2 linked regions of the Homo sapiens genome follow. The protein of the gene in region 1 interacts with the protein of each later gene in a biochemical or structural test. Each region holds a gene or a part of one and is shown on either strand. Other genes may lie near its edges.

Region 1 (9,070 bases):
AAAGAAATTGTCAACTGAGAATACTGTACCCAGCAAAGCTAACTTTCAAACATAAAAAAGAGATAAATACTTTCCCAGGCAAACAAAAACTGAGGGAATTCATCACCCCCAGACCTTTCTTAGAAGAAATGCTAAAGGGAGTTCTTCAATCTGAAAGAAAAGGACACTAACATGCAATAAGAACATCATCCGAAGGCATAAAATTCACAGGTAAAAGTATAAAAATTCAGAACATTCTAACACTGTTGTTGTGGCATATAAATTACACAGTCTCATGTATCGCTACTAGTACAGAACACTGTTTCTATAGTTCTTCCTCTTTTACCCATCAGCTTTCTTTGTCACTGTTCTATTATCAAAACTGTCTCCTCCATTGGCTTTCATAACATGAGGTTCTTCCTGTTTCTTTTTCTACTTTTTAAACTGTCCTTTTTCCCTTTTCTGTAGACTCTTTCTCATTTCACATGCCTTAAAGTACTGCCCTTGACCATCTTTTTGTGTTTTATATCTTACCCCCTTGGCAATCCCATCAATTTTCATGGTTTTAACCAGATATTTTCTGACAAATTTCAAATATAACTCTCTTTCCAGATCGGTGGCCTATGGGATCCCTTGACTTTATTGTCCAATGGATACCACAAACTCAAACAGCCTAAACTAATTTTTTCCCAGTCTGCGATTTCTCTTTATTCCCTATTTATTCCTACAAAATAGACCTGCGGCTTATTCTAGACTTCTCTTTTTCCTTGATTCTCATAACCAATCATTCACTAAACACTAACCTCCCTGCTACATAGAAAGTCAAATTCATTCTCCTCTATCCTTTTCCATTGACACTTTCTTTAGTAAAACTCTAATCATCTCTTGACAAAATTAATTAATTGAACTGGCCTTTCCTTCTCCACTTCCCTCAACCATCAATGGCCTTCAGATTTGTCTCCTAATTTCCAATTTGACTCCTTTTCTTAATCTGTCTTCTCCAAAGCTTTCCAGATGCCCTTTCCAAAATATAATCTGATCTTGATTTCTTCCTGCATAAAATTCTTCACTGGCTCACCATGTTTCCAAGAGTCTAATTTTCTTGGCTTGATAAGTATGTCCCATCATGACCTAGGCTCTTTCTCTCTTTTCAGTTTGGTCTTCCCCACTCATTTTCCCAGGACATATACTTTAGAGTTAATGATATTCTTAGAGGTCCCTGAGCATATTTTGCTTTCTATGTCAGTGCTTTTACTGAATTTACTCCTTTGTTTCCTCGGATATAGTGAACTTCAGATGTCACCTTTTCTGGGGACCTTCTATGAGCTTTCCCTCACTGCTTCCCTGGACCAGAGGGAGCTAATCACAGTTCTCTCTGTTGTCTCTCTACCTCATGCCTACTCCTATGGTTGCACTTAGCAAAACTGAATAGTAATCACCATGTGGTGAACTTCTTAAAAGGAAGACTATAATTCCACTATCTCTACTCCTCAATGACTATAGCATTGGTCAAACCAAAGAATGTGCTACAAAACATAAAAATTGAGATAGGAATCTGGACATGACTTCTTCTCTGCCAGTAGAGTAGTACCTGTTAACCAAAACCTGAAAATAACAAATAATGTATTTATTTATCGAAAAAAAAGGATATTGAATTTCTTTATTATAAGCTGTTTCCACTATTTCAATATCCTGATATAACCTTTTAAAATCTTTCATAAAGTTTTTTTCTCTTGAACATACTATCAGCAATTTGTTTATTGATTTTTTTGTTCTACCTTTTATAACAAACAAATTATAAAATGTGTTATAGCACCACAGAGAACAGAGGAAACTGTCTCTGATTGTTTAACAATAGCTGTGGAATATGCTGTCCAATCAAAAGATTTGCATTGAGGGCCACATGCTGTGAGTGCAATTTTTATAAAGGGAGAGAATGAGAAGTTGAATATGCGCCACTCAGTGTTAGTAAATCAGCATTTTCCCTCTTTATTTTCACATCTCCACCACAGAACTTCCCTGTATTTACTTCACACAGGCTCATCTAAGCTAAGGGCATCTTCCTAATTAAGGTTAGAATAGCATGACAACAATAATGACATCTTACATCTATTACATCTACCTAGCCCTATATGGAGCACTGTTGCATCTTATCTGTATAATAAACTTAGGGGACTGTTTTCTGTATACTTCACCCTGATAGCTCTCTAAGCATGCCTAATTCTATTAATCCCTTGAGTCAATCCTATTCCAGATCTCTGGATTTCAACTCTAGCCACCCTTCTCTAATTTTCTCATCCTTATCCACTCCATACCACTTCTAGTTACTTGTGGTAGAGATGGTGTCACAGAGATGTCTGACCATGTGTCATCTCCCACTGTTAACCACAACCCTCATAGAGAAGGCATCCTTTCTTCTTTCATTTTAACAAGGTGTTTAATTCTGGTCTTATTTTACATTTCTGCCCTGAAGGAGCTGGAGAAAAAAAAATGGTTAATTCATAATCTCCTGAAATAGAGCTTCATGTGGAGCAGTCACTCTACATTGAAAGTTTATTTTCTCTGCGAAAGGACTTTTATTACAAGATGATAACAAGCACAAATATGGAGGTAGAGTTGCTCAGATGCAGAAGGGAAACCAGATCAGCTGAGAAAATGGCTTTATTCAGACCTTCCAGAGAAATGTGGAGAGCAGGTGAGGTGGGAGCAAAAGAAGTTGAAGAAAAGGAGAGGCTTCTATTTTTCAGTGACTTTCTCATGTTTAAAAATTTATAAATAAAATAGTTATTGGCAAGGCCAGGGTACCAGATTGTGGTCAGGGTAAGTGGGTTGCTAAAGAGAAGGCAAGGAACACAGAGCTGAGATCAATGAGCTATGAGGATAGGTATTGGTGGGACAAACACATGAATGTTGGAGTCATCCAAAACTAAGGTAAGAGCTGACATTAAGAGGAAGACTAACAGCAGAGTGAGTTTTCAGAAGAGGAATCTCCTAGAAGCTGCTAAATGACAGCAGCAAAGTTGGAAAGACACAGTTGAGCTAAATAGTATGGACCTCACATGAGAGGCGTGCATGAGGGTTAAAAAGGAAAGAAAGAAAGAAAGAAAACTTTGGCTTGAGAAAGTATCTAAAACAAAGCTAAATTAGTCCTAGCTTTGCTGCTGATGAATTTTATGATCTTGAGCAAGTCATTTTGTTTTATTTTTCTGGGCTTTTGTTTTCTCATTTGTAACAAGAAAGTTTCCTAAAGTCTATAGTAGATGCTACACCTTTATCTTAATCATGAATTTCATTTTAATCTTATATTACTAGGTTTAGGGTCGAAAATCTGTATCCAATTAACTGGCTTCTTGGACTTGCTTAATATTCATCAGCTGAGAAGAAGTCATCGCTTTGGTGGCAGTTTAAGAAAAACAACTGAAATGTATTTATGGGTACCATCTTCTTGTTCTTTGAAAAGCTGCTGTGAGGAATATAACATGGTAGTGATTATAATTCCCATTTTACAAATGAAACTGAGATGTGCATGCATACAGTATTTCCCATATGTTTTGTGCATTTTTCAAAACAGTAATTAAACATTTTCTTTTTAACCCATGAGCCTATAACTGTCTATATATTTACATGTCTCTTCCAACAAATATTAGTAGTAATAATAGTTATTATTATTGATTTTTATTACTTTATGTGTTACTAGCACCAAGAAAAATATGTGATGCATAATAGTCACGTGTTTATTTATAAATGTCTTTATTAGAAGGCAAATTAGTTACTAGGTAATCAAAGAATTTCTGCCTATCAAAATCCTGTGCTTCTACTACAAATTAAGGCTTTTACCTGGATATTTAGATAATTGCCTTGAATATTTAATTTGTTGGCTATGAAATAAATAAAATAGATAATCCTAAAATTGATAATTGGAGATTTCTGAGAAGCAATTCTCTTCATAAAAACATTAATGTTCTATTTGGTACTACAATGCCTTAAGTTTAAGAGAGTAAAGCTTTCTGGAATACAGAAGGTAATTAAAATTATAATTTCTCATGTAAGTTAAGATTTTAAATGTTGTAGACATTCATAGAGAACAATTAAACAGGAAAAAGTAGCAAATATTTCTATATAATTTTAGAATCTAATGATAACTCTCTGTTGCATAAGACAGTGACATTTTGACAAGGCTTTATGCCTTGTCTTGACTCTGGTTTTCAACTACAGCTTCTCTGAAAATTGACAACTTTCTCCTACTGACATGCTGTTTCCAACATATATCAGAACAGCATGTGCCATGAGTTTTTTTAGTGGTTGTAGGTGTTCACCAAACTATTCTTTTCTGGATGTGGTTCCCCAGCCCTCTGTGTTCTTAAAAAAGTGTATGCCGAAAACACGACTTTTGATAAGTCTCTTTGTGAACCCATCACTCCAGTCACTGCCCAGTTACTGAAAATCCACAAAGCAGTTATTGTATATTAGCTCCCTATATCATAAGGGCAAAAATTTTAATACTTGTAGAAGGATGGCTACTGCCAAGCCACACGGTAGAAACATAAAATGGAAGCTGCCATCACCACCTACCCTATGAAGGACAGCTTCTTATAAAATTTGCAGCAAGATAAACGTAGTCACAGGGTGATTGTGTGGCAAAGGAATCACAAAGAGTTCAAGTTTACTCAAAATAATGAAAGTGTCATTTTTTTCGTCTTTGGATTTCACTCTAATTCTATGCACATAATAGCTGTTTGCTAAATACTGATTAATGACTTTAAAAATGAGTTTAATAAATCCAGCCAAGATATAAAAGAAAAAATAAAGATAAAAATTTTTAAGTATGGCAATTTGTGGCCATTTTGAGTAATAATAAATGGCCTTATATTTTTTTAACAGGCTCCAAGATTACCACCATATTCCAGCGCAAGGTAAAAATTTATGTTCACGATAACTTGGTATATTCAAGGAAAATGTCCATTAAATTGAGCACTGTCTTTAAAAGAAGTTAGGGGACCTTACAGTAGTGTTTGCAAAGATCACCTCATAAAATGTTTTAAATGTAAATGTTGGTGTTTAAAGAGACCAACTCTCAAGTATAAAGTAGACAGCTAGAGAATCAAGGTTATGGATAAACAAGGTTTTACTTGGATATGAACACTTGTTAAAAAATTACAAATAAAGTATCTCGTAACAATATCTGGCTTTTCTTTCGTCCACTCACCAACTTTTGCCAATAATATATGTTCTCTTGGCCAAAGTTCACATGTCTAACTGTGCTTGGATGTATCTTTCTTGAAACCAAAACTCTTTGTCACATGCTTCAAGATTCTCCATTACTTGTCCTTCATGTCTATAAAGACTGATGTAATCACAGAATATTAGGACTTACTTCTGTTTTTATTATTAGTTCTTACCCCAGACTCTTTCCTCCAGATAAGCAAATCTGTTTTTTTCACACCATTACAGTACTTTCAATACTGTCTCTTTTACAAATGCTATGTTTCCAAACAAAACTCTAACCAAAATTCCCTTTTCTCCAGGTTTTCTCTAGATAATTGCACCACTAATACATTCTTTCAGTTCCCTACAATTGAATAAACTCATGTTTATAAATGTCTATACTGTGATTGCTTTTACTTACTTTACATGTATTTAAACTGCACTCCCCTTAAAGTAAAAACTACTTAGTAACCGAAATTAAGTCTTCAAAATTGTTATTTAAAGTTTTTATGCAGTAAATCTTTACTTAAAGTCATCTGTTGTGATGACTTTTCATTTAAACTACATATAGCCATTTATACATTTGCAAGGTAGTATAGTAAGAGGAGGAAAAGCACTGTATAGAAGAAATTCATAATAGGCTGAGTGAACACCAGAATTAGCCAGGTAGTTTGCTCGTGAAAGGGTTTGAGACTTTACTTTCGACCCTTATCTTATTCAGGTTTTAACGTATATGGTTAAATCCTGGAGACACAAAGCTGGAATACTAAGATAAATTAAACAATCAAAATCCCAGAACTTACTGATGTTAGAAAGGCAGATTGAAGCTAATAATTTTACATTTAAAGGGAAAAAATTCAAGTCCTCCTCTTGAATCTAATGGTAACAGTAACAAAATTAATAACTGTTCAAGCATAAAAGGAAGGAGATATGGATTAATAGCAGCACTTCTGAAAAGACCTTGGGATGTTAATTGATGTAAGATCTACTCTAGTCAGCTATGATGGTAAGGGAAGTAAAAAATGAAATGCATGAGTGAAGGAACTGGAGAGCTACACTACAAAAGAGAGATTATTCATTGATGATAAATGTCACATGGAAAAGAAGCTTGAATGTTTTGGATGACTCCTAGTCTTCAATGAAGGATTGGTGGAAACTTCAAGAAATCTGTTTTAGGTCATTACATAGAAGAACTGACTAAAAGTCAGGTGAAATTCTGCTCTCAATTTAACTCCGATATACTCCTACTCTAATTAGAAACCCTAATCACAATTAGAAAGCTTTGAGCGTGGGCAAGCACGTAATGTGATGTTCTAAGCATCTTTTATTAGTTGGCCTGAATAACCTTTCAAAACACTCCTATTTCTTACTATATGATAAAATGAGCAATGTATTAAGATAATTTCCTTTGAAGTAGGTTGCAATCAAGACAAGAAAGATATATAGAAAGTTACTGGTACATAGATAGGAAATATGATATTTAGTAGATATAAAATTATTACAGGTAATTGCATTAATCAAAGTATGTATTTATGACTTAGGAGGACTTTTTTCTGATGTCATTAGACTTTTTAATTGTTTTATATCAAATAAAAAAGTACTTAAAAAGGAAAAAATCAGATTTTGGAAAGAAGCTCAAAAAGGCCAATTTTATATAAAATGTAAGCAAATGTCAAAAAAATGTCACACCAAGATCAAAATCTAACTGGAAAGAAAAGTTTACCTTAAAGTGGATATTTTAATAAGGGAAGCAGCATCACTAAATTCATTATTATATCAATACTTATCTAAGTAACTGAGACAAAATACTAGAAGAAAGGCTTAAGATAAATAAATAAATACATAAAAGTAATGAATGAAAATTTATCCACTCAAAAAAAATTCTTGTAGCTACATACTCAAAGAACATTTTTATTGGACTTGTTCAATGCTTTGAATTTTATTAACTACAGTTATTTTTAAGTACTGTTTTCAAAAATCATTTGAAATAATAAATTTGTTTTTTTGACGGGGAATCTGTATTTTATCAGAAGAACAAAATATAGTGTCCTTGGCTGAGATATTCTTATCAGTGGTAGGCTATTTCTCTACTATATACTTAGCATATTTAAAGACTCACATTCCAGGTAGGCAGCTTGCTCCAAAGTGCATTCAAACTTTATTTGTGGATAAGGCTCCATTACTCCAATATCCTGCCTCCCCCTTGACAGGCTCATCTTAACATTTGCCTCCAGAGCTAATCATGAACAATTTCTGGAGAGTCTATTGCATTGCAGGTAACTTTATGTGTACTGATTTTCTTTCATTTTATGTAAATTGATAATTGTCATGTATCAAGTGTGGTACAAATAATATGATATAAGATTGAAAAGAATGTAAGAGAATATAAAAACTAAATTGTAACTGGTTAAAACACAAAACAAAACAGAAAATATCTGCAAGTTTAGCTTCAATATAAAAAAAAGTAATATAAAAACAACTGTACCATTCAAAAACAATATGATTTCAAGATAATCTCACAATTAACTACAGAAATGAAGGTACACTAGTCCAGTCACTTAGTGCTTTTGGTATTAACTATTCTTGGTTAACTTCTAATACAAGAAACGATGATAATGAATTGACTAGGGAATGGCTGATTTGGAAAGGAGAGATGAAGGTCACGAGAGGCCCCAGAATTTCTAAGCCCTAAGTTGCCAATATCCAGACAAACTGGCTTCCTTGCTGAATAGTGCTCAGACGACAGAGACAACCCTGATATGTGGTCTTCTCTGCTATTTGACAGGGAACTGTCACCAATAAGCGACCCCATCAGTCTGAAAGCAGTAAAATTACTAAATGATCCAAGGAAGTGCCTGTAGGCCAGTACACTATGGGGCCCTGAAAAGCAGGAGGGCAAAACCTCAGGAAAAATGAATCTTCAGTGGGACCTTACACAAAATTCCTTTCCAGATAGAAGGAAAGAAATGCAATTTAGTTTTTACAGATGTTACGTTTAATAAGAGAAGTAACTAATTCCCTTTGAGAAGAAACAAGGTATTATATATGAATGGCAAGGTGAATGGTGTAACTGCTTGGTAATAAAATAAACCCCACATATTTCTATGATGCTGTTCTGTGAACACAATGTAGTCTGGAATCAATTACTATAATAGTACGGAGACATTGTCTTTGCCATACAACACCAATCAGAAGGCAGAAAGGAAACATAGTAATCCAAACTAACACATGGGCAAAATTATAATATTAGTCCTTTCGCAGCAAAATTAGTGAAAACATGTTCAATTCATTTTCCAAAAACATAATTCTACTCCTCAGAAAGCAACCCACTATTAGCCACCTCTCACCAAATAAAACAATCTTATAATGAAATATGGAAAATAAAACCACTGTTTAAAAATAATGAAGCATTACTTCTTCCTGAAGAAAGAATTTATACTTCCAATATTAATAATCAATTATCTAGCTCAATGGGGGAAATATTATTAAATATTTAAATAAATCACATTCAATCTAGATTTTGCCATTCTCTTTGCCATCATCTTTGGATCTATCCAATGATGATATTTAACACATTTTAACTTGCTCTTTCAGGATGTTTCATTTAAGCAAGCACTAAAGAAACTATGCTAAACATTAACATGTAGTAAAGTTAAATATTAAAATATAAGGAATTAATACTTTGAGTCTTAAAAAAGTAATGAATTTTTGTTCAAAAAGAGATACGCAGTTCATGATTAAAAATCAAGCTTCAGAAGCATAAGTCAGTTATTATAAAGTTATAATATCACAGCAGATAGTTTTTTCCAAAAGCAAAATCTGAAATTATAATGTGTAATCCTATATCATTTATGTTTGTTCTGAAAATTCTGTTCCCTTTATAAAG
Region 2 (9,070 bases), about 15 Mb from region 1:
GCCATCCTGGAAGCAGAGATCAAGCCCCTCACCAGACACCAAATTTTCTGGTGCCTTGATCTGGGACTTCCTAGCCTCCAGAGCTGTGGGCAATAAATTCATGTTGTTTTTAAATTACCCAGTTGACGGTATTTTGTTACAACAGCAAAAACTAAGACAACTAAGACAAGGATTTTTAATCCTCTTTTGCTAGTCCTTTTCTTTCTTTTTTTTTTTTTTTTTTTTTTTTTTTTTTGAGACGGAGTCTCGCTCTGTCGCCCAGGCTGGAGTGCAGTGGCGCAATCTCAGCTCACCACAAGCTCCGCCTCCCGGGTTCACGCCATTCTCCTGCCTCAGCCTCCCCAGTAGCTGGGAATACTGGCGCCCGCCACTACGCCTGGCTAATTTTTTTGTATTTTTAGTAGAGACAGGGTTTCACCATGTTAGCCAGGATGGTCTGGATCTCCTGACCTCGTGATCCGCCCGCCTTGGCCTCCCAAAGTGCTGGGATTACAGGCTTGAGCCACCGCACCCAGCCCTAAAACTTTGGGCAAGGAATTTAACTTCTCTAAGCCCTAAGTTCCCCGTTGTAACATGTAACACTGAAAATAGCAATGATAATATCTACCTTTATTGATTCTTAATCAATAAAACAAGATAATCCATTAAACAAGATAATCCATTCAAAGCACTTCACACAGTTCTTCAGCAAACATTAGCTATTAGTATACGTTACGTAAATAATTTGTGGAAAGCAACAAACTCTTCTGATTGACATAAAATTATAAGGTACTAGATGCGTTAAAAGATTAAAGTGACTTCTGTCAGCACCAGCGCTAATGAACTGTATGTTTTGCAAATCATAGATGTTTTTTAATTAAATGAAAGTAAATAAATTAGATGTTAAGCCAGTATCTGTCTCAGGATAAAACACTTGGGGCTAAGTTTACTGCTGAAACTTCTTTATTCTGAAATGTCAGCCTAGTGCTATCATTTTTCCTCAAGAAAAACATCTTCTAGCCAAAAGCAATATTCCAAATATTTAACACCCAGTCATTAACACACGAACCAGTAAACACGGCTAGTGCAGACTGGCAGAATAGCATCCCTGCTTATCCCAAGGTCATGAAATATTTGTGACAGAAATGATGACCCACTTCAATGTATTTTTTTTAGTGCAAAACTGTAATCAACTGGCTTACAGGAACTTAATAAAACACAAAAATCTATTCATCATGCCATGCCACAATCCACATATCAAGCTAGCTCTCACTCAGCTCCCTATCTCACCTCCAGGTCACAGCTGTATTCGGTGCCATCTAAGAGGGTCACTTTACACTGGACAGTTTTGGTCTTCTTGGTGACTTTTTGAGATGCCTTCTCTGCTTTCAGCTCATTGGTCTGCACTTCCTTGGTCTCCCTTTTTGCTGCTCCTCCTTCTAATTTGTCTTCCTGTGTTTCTTTTACCTTCTCTTCTCTCTCCTTACTTACTAATTCAGTAGGCTGTTGAGGAAAAAAAAATAAATTCATACTATAGTCAACCACCTTGCAGATGACAACATACTAAAAGGAAAATCTTTCATAAGAATTAGGATCGTTACTTTAAACACTGTAACTTTCAGATTTTTAAAGACTTGAAAATTCCAATAGAAAGGATATTTCCCCTCATCCTCTTTTCATGGCCAAAATTCTCATTTTGCCAAGTTGGTTATTTGGCATTAAATGAATCAAAGAAACTACATCCCAGCAACTACAATTTAAGTATCATCTCAAATAATAACATTTCCAATTAAAATCTTATACCATGGCAAAACCTAGGCTTTGTTAGGCAACTAAAATGCGCACACACAAATCTACTACTTACTGTCCAGTGAAAACTTAAAGAGGCATAAAAGAGCATTCTGTTTAAAAAAGAGATGGCAGGGCTCGGAGTATCTACCTCACCTAAACAGGTTACAGACATGAATTTTTTAGTAATTGGTATATATAGGGGACTTTTTTTTCAAGGAGTAACAGGGAAAGGCTATGGTAGACCAATCTAAGACCCATTCCGTATACATTAAGCTAAAGCAGTATCTCAGTACAAGAAATCTGGAAATGATCCAAAACAAACAAACCCTTTTTATTATGTGGTTACGCTATCAGGTTTTCATTTCCAGGCAATTATTCCCAAACATACCTGCATCTCCACTTTGCTCACTGAGGGTTTTTCTTCCTTGCTCACTGAGGGTTTTTCTTCCTTGACTTCAACTTTAATCTCTTGTTTCTTCTGAGCCATTTCTTCAGCATCACCCTTAGCCTGTCTCTGTTCTTCTGGAAGGGGTTCCTCTTTATCTAAGACCTGTTCTTCAACAACAGCTTGGGTAGGCTCTTTTTTATCTCCTCCATCTTTGGCCACTACTAAGGTATATGACTTTTGCTTCTTAAGCCATGGCGGTATGAACCGAGAAATACCCCTGCTCTCCGATGTTTCCTTCTCTCTCTTCTGGCGGCGTAGACTACTTTGGCTTTCAGCTGCAGGAGGTGGCTGGGAACCTTTTTCCTCCTCTGGATCGGAAGACTGATTCTGCTGATTTTCTGCTACTTCTTTAGGTTTTTCCTTGGTTGCATCTGTTCCTAACTGGCTAGAGTCCTTCTTCACTTCAGACACAGAGCCTACTTCAGTAGTCATGGCCACAGCTTATGCTGTAATCAAAACAAAAATCATAAAATGTCATTTTGTAAGTTCTCTCAAATTTAGTTTGGTTGCGAGGGGCATGGTAAGGAAAGATGAGAAGAAGAGTAACAGATGACAGGGAGAAAGCACATCAAGAAAGAAGATTCAAAAGCACAAGACAAAATGGAGACTGTTGCTCGAACTTTTAGAATTCTCTATCAGCATCACAGACCCAAAACTAGCATCACAATAGAACTCTGTGTGTTCTGAGTTCCATATAGCTAGAACTTAAAATCATCAAGAACTCAAGAAACAGGGATTACTTTTATTTGGTTTCAACTTGTTATAAACAATAATTGATATCTAAAATCCAAGTTTTTTAAGAAAAATTACTTTTATCTGTACTTGGTATTCTTTATTCTGTAACAGGAAGATGTTATCAACAGTGCTAGAAAGCAATGAGACACATTTCACTACAATTTCATACATTAAACCCAAAATCTATCAAAATGTTAGGTATTAGAAAAAACAGTTTTAAGTGTATGGTGTGTAACAGCCAAGAAGGTAAAATAACAAAAATGTATTATTCTGTGTTCCAATATTAAATCCCGTAATTCACCATCACTGTTCCAATGCAAAAGTTAATCTTGGAAAAGGTACTCAAATTCTAATCAAAACTCCGAACCTCCATCCCACCCAACCATAATCACACTTTTCTTTCTATATATAAGAAAAATATTTAAGGGCCATAATCCAAACCAAATGAGGACATTATGAGGTGGAAAAAATGCATCTGACGATTGTTCTTATCATAACTAATTAGAACAAAATTTAAATAAATTCTGAAAATAACTAAATTTTACATAAGCAAAGAGGGACTTTTAAAGTGTTACAGCACGCTGACATAAAGAACAACAGGCGGGGCCTGCGGAGATAGCCGATCACATTCGCTCTCCCCTCCCTTGCCAATAATAAGTGCCCAGAGTCCTGGCACCCTGGACAACGAGTAGTGTCCCAGCTATCTTCAAAGGTGGTAAAAACTTAAGAGACGGACATGGTTATTCCTGTAGTCACAGCTACTTGGGAGTCTGAGACAAGAAACATGCTTGAGCCCAGGAGTCTGAGGCCAGCCTGAGAAACAGAGTGAGACCCCATCTCTTAAAAAAAAAAAAAATTGTGTTAACTTTTTAAGTGGTACAAACTTGAATAAGTCAAAAAAAAAAGTACACTTGTTTTAAAGCTTTATTAAGATATAATTCATGTACCATAAATTTCACCCTCTTAAAGTATACAGTTAGTGATTTTGAGTATACTCACAAAGTGGTACAACCACCACCACTAATTCTAGAGCATTTTCATCACTCCAAAAAGAAATCCTGTGCCCATTAGTAGTCACTCTGCATTCCCCGTCGCCCCCTGGCAACCTTACGAATATATCCAAAACCACTGGATTGTATACTTTAAAAGGGTGAATTTTGTGATATGTAAATTTTCTCAATAAAAATAACTTAAAAATGTTTTTCACATCTAATATGCAACCACAAAAACAGTCAAGTCAATTCACCTATATAATGGCTTCTACGATGTGGTAAGTTCATGGGCACATGAATAAAGACAACCTTTGAGGAGCTAAGGGAGTGAGGGCTACAAATAAGCATACATTAAGTCAATAGCATGTTGCACAAAAAACACAGGACTAGGCCAGGTGCAGTGGCTCATGCCTGTAATCCCAGCACTTTGGGAGGTCGAGGAGGGTGGACCACTTGAGGTCAGGAGTTCGAGACCATCCTGGCCAACATGGCGAAACCCCATCTCTACTAAAAATACAAAACTTAGCTGAGCGTGGTGGCACGTCTCTGTAATCCCAGCTACTCGGAAGGCTGAGGCAAGAGAATAGCTTGAACTCAGGAGGCAGAGGTTGCAGTGAGCCGAGATTGTGTCACTGCACTCCAGTCTAGGCGACAAAACAAGACCCTGTCTCAAAACAACAACAACAACAAAAAAAAAAAAAAAAAAAAGCAAAGGACTTAAGCCAGGTTAGGAGAAGAAGAGGGTCACCAGGCAGGCGTTTCTGCAGAAGTTGACATTTGAGTTTATTTTTTAAATGGGTACTCATTATTCAGACAAAATAGCCAGAATGGAAGGTATGTGTCAGGCATAGGGAGTTGTGTGGAAACATGAGAACATTCCTCATAAAAAAGGAAACCACAGGCACAGAACAATAATCCACTGTACAAGTGAAGTGGGGGCTTATGAGTGAAGACAGGACAGGCGGAAGCTGAACTGGTAATAATGAAGTAAGAAAGGAAGGCAGAAGCCAAAACATAAAAGATTTTGTGTTATTTTAAAGGCAATGTGGGGGTTATTTGAAAAGCAATGAGAAGTTACATAAGTACTTGAAGTAGAGGAGAAATGTAATAAGATTCTCATTTCACTTAGCGCAACCTGGCTGTAAAGCACAGGATGAAAGAAAAGACTGAAGCAGAAAGACATCCAGGAGATTGGGTTGATCTGATCTCTGGTTGATCCAGACCTGAGAAGACGATGGTCTATATATACTACAGCAGAAACAGTAGGGTAAAGAACAAGAAATTAATCTAATGGTAAAGAGGTAGAGTGGATATGACTTGATGTCCGGGCTGAATATAGAAAGTCAAAGAGAGGAAAGAGCTAAGGAAAAGGCCCAGGTCAAGGAAGACTAGGGTGATGGTAGAACCATTCATGGAAATGGGGAACACCTGTAAAAGTGGGTCTGGCTGACACATATAATTCAATTTTGAATTCATTGTGATTGAGAGGTTGTGGAGATGTCTAGATGACCCCAAGACACACAGGTTTTGATTGGAGACTAGATACACACTAGAGATAGGGTTTGGATGTTGTCATCACATGGGGATACATCACCTAGAGAAAAAGGGTAGCTTAAACTGAGAGGATCCTTAAAAGAGCTCTTATCACCATCAACATATAAGGTGAGGCAGAAGAAAAGGCATGAGGGCCAGAAGAAATATGTAGTGAGGCAGGGAGATCAGGAGACAGTAATATCCCTGACAGCAATGCTACGTAAGAGGGAATAGTTAACTATTATACCCACATATTCTTTGCTGCTTCTCATTCTCAGGCATCTGAAATTCAAAAGTATGTCTTCCAGCAAGACCCGAGGACAGGTAAACTGGCTCCATATTGCACAGAAAACCTTTTTTCCTTCTTTAACATACCATTTCCCATGTACTATTTAAGTGGACAATATTATTTACTTTAATCATGAAATAACCAAAGTGTATTTCTAGTATATGCTCTCTAATTACATTCTGAGAGCTGAATAAATGTCCTGGTAAAATTAAAACCAAAATGCCCCATACTTGTCTAAGCTAACCAAGATAAATTGGCAGCTCTCTAATTACTTTGGCTGTGAGAAATAGTCTGGGAACCAATCAACTAAGGCTGATTTTTGGCCAAAATATTTTAGAAGCAGTGAAATATAAAACTTGAGTTTCCACTATTATGTTAAAAGCATTAATAGTTGTTTATATTTTAATCATAAGGGTTTCCACTCACTGTTTACTGTCTGACACAGTGCCCATAATCTGTTTCTCAAAATATTCTACAAAGTATGTATTATCCCTGTTTTACAAATAATAAACAGTAGTCACTTATCCAAAGCCACTAATGGAGAACCACACAGCTGTGTATACCTTCCCTCACACACACTTCATAATGCAATCACAGCTCCATTATGCACGAATGACCTACTCAACCACAGAGTCCTTGGCCTAGTACTCAAAGAAGGTTCCTGCCAGTTAGTGAAAATGACTATGAAATAACATAAATGTATTCTCAGATTTATTCAAAATATTCTCTCTTAAAAGTAAGAAATTTATAGATGAATTTAAATAACAAAGAAAATCCCATTTGTACGTTATTGCTTGACCATGTAATCATAACTGAGCTGGTTGACAGACACTGAAGACAAAGTACAAATACAGACAGGAAGAGCACCGACAAAACCATATGGTTAAGCCTCACGAAGTCATCCTCAATCACCACTGTATTCACAACACCCATAAGGGTTAAGAGCCTCAAAAGTGATGATCAGTGTCACCCATCCAAATGGAAGTTACAAGACAGAAAACAATGGAAAAGACTAATTGGATCATTACTCAACATATTCTTGAAACAGTTTCAAGAGTTCAACAGAGCTCAAAACAAAACACTACCTTCTTTGTTGATAAAATGGCTTCTTGAACAAATTACCACCATCAAGAAAACATGATTACAGTACATCCACTCACCCTAATTATCATGCCTATAACCCTGAGTTTCTTTCATATGTGGATAAGCCTTTAAACTCTATCACCCATGAAAATGAGAACTCTTGTAGTGGAATGCTGACATTCCCACTAAAATGAAAACTCCATGAGGGCTGGGATCTCTCTTTTATATACTGCTATGTTCCCAGCATCTAGACTGGCACATAATAGGTATCTATTAAGTACTTACTAAATGAGTATTGTTCAATCATCTAGTCTAATATCCTCACTTTATTTTATCAACAACCAAACTGAGGATCAGAAAGACCAGGAGATTTGCCTGAGATGGTAAAGTCAGATGGGCAAGCCAAAACTGGAACTAAGGTTTCCCAAACTCTGGCAATGCTCATTGACTAATATTTAATTATAATTACCCAAAATCCATCATTAGTATAGTTATATAATACATTAAGTAATGATCTTTCTACTTATCATCAACTAAAAAGAACACTGCTGTGAACAGCCCGCCCATTAGACAAGCATGTGGTTTTGACACAATTACCATGTTGGCATGCTCCATCTGGGTTGATAAAAGTGTTCGTCATTGTGACAGCTTCATGAGAAAAAGCATGCATCATTTAACATGCAATGAAGCAGAAAACCATCATCAATAGAGGATCAGTACTGGTTAGGTAAGGAGCTGTGTTACATAAACCCATTCTTTTTTTTCCAACGTTTAAAAAAGGAGGTAAATTCTAATGTGCTATCTCTATCACTAGGCTGAACTGCCAACCATATAACATCATGCTACTTAAAACATTGGCCCTTAATCAGAATACTACAGCAAGCAAAGCAAAGCAGATACACAACCTCACAAACACACAAACAACTTCAAGCAAGGGGTTCATGCTAATTCTTGGGTTCAGATGTTTCCTTAAAACATTGAGGAAACTGGGACCTTACTGTTAACAAAACCCCTGAGCAGGGAACAGGGTAGGTGCTGCTGCCAGCTGAGTAGCTCCCATTCTTTGCTGAGATCACAAGCAATATGAGAGTCTTTAATTTCTACCAAGAGAGCTCAACCCATTTTGTAAGGATCCAAGATTCACAAAATGGGAAGGTATGTATTTCTAAGCTTCAAAAATGGTAGCAAGAGGATGGAGGGAGGCTTTCATTTGAGCTTTGAGAAAACAACAAAACTTTGCAACAAATAACCATTGAACTTAAAACATATTGGCAATGTGTAGACAGTTCTGGCCATTTTCTACATCGGATAAAACTAGTTTTCATCTGCTTGTGGGTAGAGGATATGTAGAGCATCCTGCTGATACCCACAATCACGTGCTTGTATGTTCACCTCCCCGAAGGGCCTATAGCTATTGAAAGAGAAGGTCTTTTAATAATGCACTATTTGATGCCATCAAACGTGAGGGAAAAAAAACAAATGTAGAAATGATTCAGCAGCCACCTAACTCTACTTGGGAAATAAAGAGGTGATGCTTCTCAAATATATTCATCATTTAAAAGGAGAAGGGGAAGAGGCAGGAGAGGTGGGGCAGAGGGGAAGGAGGAAGTGGGGTGGGAAGGGGAACAAGGAAGAAGAAATATCTGGAGAGGAAGAAGGAATAACAAAAACAGGCAGACTTAGAGCAGAGTGCAAGTAAGTCCTTACCCTCACAGGTTTATGTTTCTTAAGTGTCAGATGGTCTAGAAAATACCATACTTCATATTCAAGTAAGTATAAATACATTCCAAAGGGACTATTTGTTAGTTCATATTATCTATATGGGGAGGATGAACAAGTAATCCAATGCTGCTCACCCTAGTTACCTTTATAACCCACTATATCACTTGTTTATTTATTTTTAAAAGGATAAGGGACCTATTAGACAGAGCTATTACTATAAAGATGTAAACTAATATCCGGTTTAAATTAAACCCACACATACAAAACATATGAACTACAATCTTCCCTAGTTCAAGTCTAGATGGGATCAGGTGACATTCAGATATATTTCTTCCACTCTTTCTCCTTTTTAATAGAACCTAAATTTTGTTCCACTTTCCCCCCTTCCACATGTGTTTCAATAGAGGCTAGCTCCAGATTGGCCTCAAGGGTAGCTTCTATTGGTCTAGGGCAATCATGGTAGTCTCCCACCCCTTGGCAAGAAAATATGCACGAAGT

Evidence for each region. Proteins that work in one complex are often made in the same cells at the same time.
Region 2: the proteins of GRM1 (region 1) and EPB41L2 form a complex in vitro, tested with the Homo sapiens proteins (one study listed by BioGRID).

Annotation. Positions count from the first base shown.
Region 1 is NC_000006.12:146,031,494-146,040,563, reverse strand, and holds part of GRM1 (metabotropic glutamate receptor 1 isoform alpha precursor), read right to left. Parts: intron 1-9,070. UniProt on the Homo sapiens protein: G-protein coupled receptor for glutamate. Ligand binding causes a conformation change that triggers signaling via guanine nucleotide-binding proteins (G proteins) and modulates the activity of down-stream effectors.
Region 2 is NC_000006.12:130,953,836-130,962,905, forward strand, and holds part of EPB41L2 (band 4.1-like protein 2), read right to left. Parts: intron 2,665-9,070; 5' UTR 2,651-2,664; coding exon 2,159-2,650; intron 1,483-2,158; coding exon 1,270-1,482; intron 1-1,269. UniProt on the Homo sapiens protein: Required for dynein-dynactin complex and NUMA1 recruitment at the mitotic cell cortex during anaphase.